Linked DNA regions of Homo sapiens: region 2 is linked to region 1. The links come from fine-mapping of genetic effects on plasma protein levels. Region 1 holds a variant in brackets. A gene starts in the other region. All regions are shown on their forward strands.

Evidence for each region. PIP is the chance, under the fine-mapping model, that this variant and not a neighbour inherited with it causes the effect. The UK Biobank Pharma Proteomics Project read protein levels with antibody pairs (Olink). The fine-mapping took linkage between variants from a reference panel, not from the people measured, so its PIPs are less certain.
Region 2: it holds the start of SCGB3A1, and the variant in region 1 is fine-mapped to the plasma level of the SCGB3A1 protein (UK Biobank, PIP above 0.99).

What each region holds. Positions count from the first base shown.
Region 1 is chrX:150,607,213-150,610,113 of GRCh38, forward strand. The region is part of intron 4 of MTM1 (myotubularin 1); the gene reads left to right. Among named protein-coding and RNA genes, the nearest start is that of MTM1, 40 kb to the left of the region's middle. The variant A/G (reference allele first, on the strand shown) is at 1,367.
Region 2 is chr5:180,590,055-180,592,955 of GRCh38, forward strand. SCGB3A1 (secretoglobin family 3A member 1) reads right to left here and starts at 1,445. Exons shown (of 3, transcript NM_052863.3): 1 at 1,357-1,445; 2 at 546-784; 3 at 51-200. The coding sequence starts at 1,408. The coding sequence ends at 177. RefSeq lists enhancers at 1-306, 307-976, 977-1,646.

The sequences.
Region 1 (2,901 bases):
CCTGACCTCAAGTAATCTGCCCACCTCCGCCTCCCAAAGTGCTGGGATTACAGGCGCGAGCCACTGCACCCAGCCTTGCCCAAGTATCTTTATTTGAAAACACCTTCTTGTATTCCTGCTACCACTGATACTATCATCCTCTTTCTTCCCCTTATTGCACAAACTTCTTTAAAAATTAGTCCACACATGCTGCTTCCACTTCCGTACTATTGACTCCTTACTTCTTGTGGTCTGGCTTCTGTTCCCTATTGAAACTACTTTACTGCTCAATTCCAGTGGCCTTGGTTGAGTTCTTGACTTTTAAATTTCTATGCAGGGATTGATTCTGTTGACTGCTCCTTCCTTTATCCTTTTCCCTATACATTCCTGGCTCTCCTCTCATTTCTGCCTCTTGCCTTCTATGCGGCTCATTTTTTCTTTCCTACCTCCTAAATATTATTTTCCCCAGAGTTCTGTCCTCACCCTCTTTTTTCTCCATTGTCAGTTGCTTTCCAATTCTCTAGCTCCAGTTCCAATCTTTCATTCTGTATTCATTGAGTATCTGAGAGTCCAGTATGTGTTAAGCACTATGCCAGGTGCTAGGATATGATGGTGAGCACCGCAAACAGTTTCTCCCTCACGAAGCTTATAGTTCTCATGGGATTGATAAACATTCTTCTGATAGTCACGCCAATATATAATAACAAGCTGTGATCAGTGTTGCGTGGGAGTAGTACAGGGGCACAACAGTTTGAGGAGCCTGGGAAATTGTCCTGAGAAAATGCTTGACCTGGGGTCTGAAGAATACATATAAGTTCCCTAGATGTGAGTCAGGGGCTGGGGAGGTGAGAAGAAGCTGAGAGAACAGCATATGAGAGGACCTGAGACCAAAGGAAGCATGAAAAATGACAGTATGGCTGAGTTGGGGGAGAATGGCAAGAGATGAGGTGAGAGAGGTAGATGGTGGCCAGATGTCCTCGGCCTTGCCCACCCTGTTCAGGATTTGGGGTTTTTATTTTTTCATTTATTCATTGGATTGATTGATTTGAGACAGGGTCTCGCTGTTGCCCAGGCTGGAGTGCAGTGGTGCAATCATAGCTCACTGCAGCCATGACCTCCTGAGCTCAAGCAGTCCTCCCACCTCAACTTCCTGAGTAGCTAGGACTATAGCTGCACACTACCATGGCCAGCTAATTTTTGTATTTTTTGTAGAGATAGGGTCTTGCTGTGTTGCCCAGGCTGGTCTCAAACTCCTTGGCTCAAGCGATCCGCCTGCCTCCGCCTCCCAAAGTGCTGGGATTGCAGGCATAAGCCACCATGCCCAGCCCTTTAATTTATTTTTTAATTGACAAAAATTGTATATATCGTGTGCAACGTGTTTTGAAAT[A/G]CATACACATTGTAGAATGAGTCAATCAAGCTACTTAACATAAGCATGGCCTCACATACATATTTTGTGTGGTCAGAACATTTAGAATTTACTCTCAGCAATTTTCTAGTACACAATAGTTGTTAGTTGTAGTCACTTTGTTGTACAGTAGATCTCTGGAACTTACTCCTCCTATTAACTGAAATTTTGTCTCCTTTGACCAACATCTCCCCATTGCCTTCCCCAGGATGATGATGATGATGATGATGATGATTATTATTATTATTTTTGAGATGAAGTCTCGCTCTTGTCCCCCGGCTAGAGGGCAATGGTGTGATCTCGGCTCACTGCAACCTCCGCCTCCCGTGTTCAAGCAATTCTCTTGCCTCAGCCTCCCGAGTAGCTGGGATTACAGGCACCTGCCACCACGCCCAGCTGATTTTTGTATTTTTAGTAGAGACGGGGTTTCACCATGTTGGCCAGGCTGGTCTTGAACTGACCTCAGGTGATCCACCAACCTCGGCCTCCCAAAGTGCTGGTATTACAGGCGTGAGCCACCATGCCTGGTCAGGATTTGGGTTTTTAGAGTTCAGCAATGAGAAGCTTTTGAAGCTTTTCACACCACTTTCAAAGTGGTGTGAGCCAAGGAATGATAACATCAGATGTGCTCTTCTAAAAGATCACCCTGGCTACTCTAGGGGGAATGATCGTAGATTTTGAGACCACTGCAACCACGGCAGTGGCCCAGAGAAGTTGCTGGTAGAATTGGAGTGGTTAGCAGAGTTGAGACTGATTTAAGAGGTAGACATAGGAGACTGGCTTAAGGATAGCAGAGAAGGGGATGCCAGGGGTGACTTCTAGGTTTCTAGCTTTCGTAACCAGCCACTGAGATAGGGAACTTTGGAGAATAATGTAGTTTGGAGAGAGAACTGCATTTAGTTCTGGACATTTTTAGTTCGAGGTACCCTTGAGATCTTGTCAGTTCTGTATATCCAGCCATCTCCTGGGTATCTGTACTTGGTTCATTTATCATAATCTCAAACCAAGAGTTTCTAAAATCGGCCGTGTTCATCTTTCTCTAAAACCCCCTCCTGTGTTCTTCACATCTTTTGGTGGTACCACCACTATTTATCCCAGAGATCTGGGCCCAAAGCTGATTCATCTTTGAGTCTTCCCCAGTGGCTAGTCTCTTTTGCTTTCTACCTCGGTCCTTCTCTACTTCTAGATCCTCATAGCCTCTCACTTGTACTGAAGTATCAGCTTTCATGGTTTTGAGGAGTGGTTGTAGCCCACTTCTTGCTAGTCCAGAATGCTCAGTGCTGCCAGATGAATCTTCATAAAGCACCAGTTAATCATGGCATTCCTGTTCTCCAGAAGCATCCTTTAGATCTCAGTCTCCCTGATCCTAGCCGTGTAGTACTCCCCAGGAAATTCCCATCACCGTTGCTGAAACCTGGCCTATATTTTTTTAAAATAAACTCTCCATGCTTTTCCCACATGTGCAGCTGATGTGACTCTTACTTGCTTCTCAAATGCCAATCTCCAGTTGCTCTTGA
Region 2 (2,901 bases), not on the chromosome of region 1:
CGGTCCCCCACAGGGATCAGCATTTGGATGAGAAAATACCAGGCTCGAGCTGCTCTTAACCACGTTTATTGAGAGGGGCCGGGGGAAGGGGATGGACGGTCCTCCCCGCGGCGGGGTTTTCAGCCCTCGCGGGTGGGCAGCGTCTTGTCCTCAGGTGTAGATGCTCCAGTCTCGGCTCAGCCAAACACTGTCAGGGCCCCCTGGAAAGCAGAAGCCGAGCTTGAGTGCCCCCAGCCCTGCCACCAAGAACTCAGGCGGGGGCGCGGCAGCGGCCGGCTCTGTGGGGAGCGGGAGCGGGGCGGTTCCGCTGGCGTCTCCGGGGGACGCGCACCCGCGCGGGGCCATCTCCGCCTTCCCCGCCCCTGCAGCTCGGATGCGCCCCACCCAGTTCCCACCCGGAGACCCGGGCTTCTCCCAGGGACAGGGCTTGGAGGGGCAGGACGGGAAACAGCCCTGACGTAGGGCCGGGACACCTCTGGTGCAGTTTTGAGGCTGGCCGGGAAGGGATGCCCGCGCAGGAAGGGCACCCGGGGTGCCCACTTTACCAGCAGGGCCTTCAGGGCCTTCACGGCCCCCACGGCCTGGGGACCCAGCTCAGCCACACACTTCTGGGAGCCCTCTATGAGGTGGTTCACGGGGATGCCCAGGCTGCTCAGCAGGAGCTTCAGCGGGTTGAGGGTGCCGAGGGGGTTGGCCAGGGTCCCGGCCCCGGCCTCCGCCGCCGACTCCAGCGCAGCGACAGGCTGGGCCACAGGCTTGGCCGAGCCCACTAAGAAAGCAGCAGCTGCAAGCGAACAGGGAGGGGTCACCGCCTGCGCGCCGGGGTCCCCAGAAGGCAGGTCCAGGACGCGCCCCCGCGGGAGGCGCCCAGGAACCGTCGCGCCCTGCCCGGCTCCCCGACCGCCCCTCCCTCCTGCGCCGAGGCCTGCCAGGTGCGAGCCCCCGGGACACAGGCGGGTCTGGGGAGGCGGCCCCGCCAGGAGACGCTGCAGGGTCACCGGAGTGGCCTGAGGGTGGCGGAAGGACCGGTGAACTCTGTGCAGGGTCCGGGACAGGCCCCCAAGGGAGGGGACACTCGCGCTGCGCCTTGCAGGATGAGGAGCCGGTCTCCAGACGGGGGGCAGACGGGTGTCCCCAGGCCAGGGGCGGCCTCCATCCCGGCACGAGGCTGGAGACAGCCCTGAGAGGGGGAGGCCGCGGGCTGCAGGCGCGGGGCCCCGGGGTGGCGGAGCCCTCTGGGCGCCGGGCGAGGCTGGAAGGACCTGGGATCCACGATCGGCGCAGGCAGCGGCGGGGGCGCAGCGGGCGCCGAGGCCTCAGGCCCCACCGTGCGCGCCAGGAGCCCGGGGCGCTCACCGGAGCTGCAGGACAGGGCCACGCAGAGCCCCAGGAGGGCGGCGAGCTTCATGGCGCGGGGGCTCGGGGCGCGCGGGGAACCTGCGGCTGCCCGGGCAAGGCCACGAGGCTTCTTATACCCGGTCCTCGCCCCTCCAGCGCCGGCCTCGCCCGCGCTCCTGAGAAAGCCCTGCCCGCTCCGCTCACGGCCGTGCCCTGGCCAACTTCCTGCTGCGGCCGGCGGGCCCTGGGAAGCCCGTGCCCCCTTCCCTGCCCGGGCCTCGAGGACTTCCTCTTGGCAGGCGCTGGGGCCCTCTGAGAGCAGGCAGGCCCGGCCTTTGTCTCCGCGAGGCCCACCCCGGCCCGCACCTTCGCTTTGCGGTCTGACCCCACGCGCCCCCCTGCAGGGCTGGGCCCGGGTGAGGGGAGCTTCCCTCGCGCCAGGGCAGGGGCGGGGGCGGCGCAGTTCCTGGCTCCCTGGTCCCTGCCTCTGATCCCAGACCGTGGCAACGTCGGGCACTGGGGGTCCTCGTGGGCGCCTTCTGCGCCTGGGGAGGTGGAGGCGCCAGGGACGATCAGGCCTCACTCCCGGCCGCCTCCCCGGCCGGGCCACAGGCAGCCACAGTGCAAACAGAAGTGGGGCGTTTTTCTGTCTTCGAAACTAGCCTCGACGCCAGTGGATGGGCCTGGTTTGTTCCTGAGTTTCTCTAAATGTCCTCACTCGTCTGTCACCTGCAGAAGTATGACAGATGGAGAGCAAAGCACATTTTGAAAACTTTTGCAAATGATACATAAACTAATTTGCTTTTAGTCCTTCTTCTTTCCTCTATTTTTTGACCCCAGGCATTGAGCACTGAGTGACTCACGTTTTGCTGCGTGGCTGCTCTCAGCTAGGTTGGTGCAAAGTCTCTCTTTTCTTTTGTAAAGTGTAGCTGGCACGCGTGGGAAACAGGCTCCCGGGTGGGAGGACCTGACTCTTCAGGCAGTGTCCTGGAATTCCTTCCCTATGGCTGACAGCACGTCTTAGCCCTCAGCCACCCCGAGCTACTGCGGCCTCCTCCGCACCTGCAGACACTTGTGCCTTTGCCAACTGTTGTGGCCAGGCACACGCATTCACACTGTTTCTGTTCACTTACACTTTTCCTTGACTATTTTGTTTGGGGGATTTTTGCATTATAAATCTGGAGTTTGGTTGTGTTTTGTTGGTCATCATGGAAGTAATTTTAATGGGAAATACGTTTTCTTTTTTAAAAACAGTTTGAAGTTAATTACTTTTTTGGTGGTGGTAAAGACACTGTCTTGCCGTGTTGCCCAGGCTGGTCTCGAACTCCTGAGCTCAAGCAATCCTCCCACCTCAGACTCCCAAGTAGCTGGGACTAGAGGTGTGAGCCACCACACTCAGCGGATTTTGATTTTGTTTTTTGTTTGTTTGTTTTTTGAGACAGTCTCACTCTGTCGCCCAGGCTGGAGTGTAGTGAGGTGATCTTGGTTCACTGCAGCCTCCACCTCCCAGGCTCAAGCAATTCTCCCACCTCAGCCTCCCAAGCAGGTGGGGCTATAGGTGTG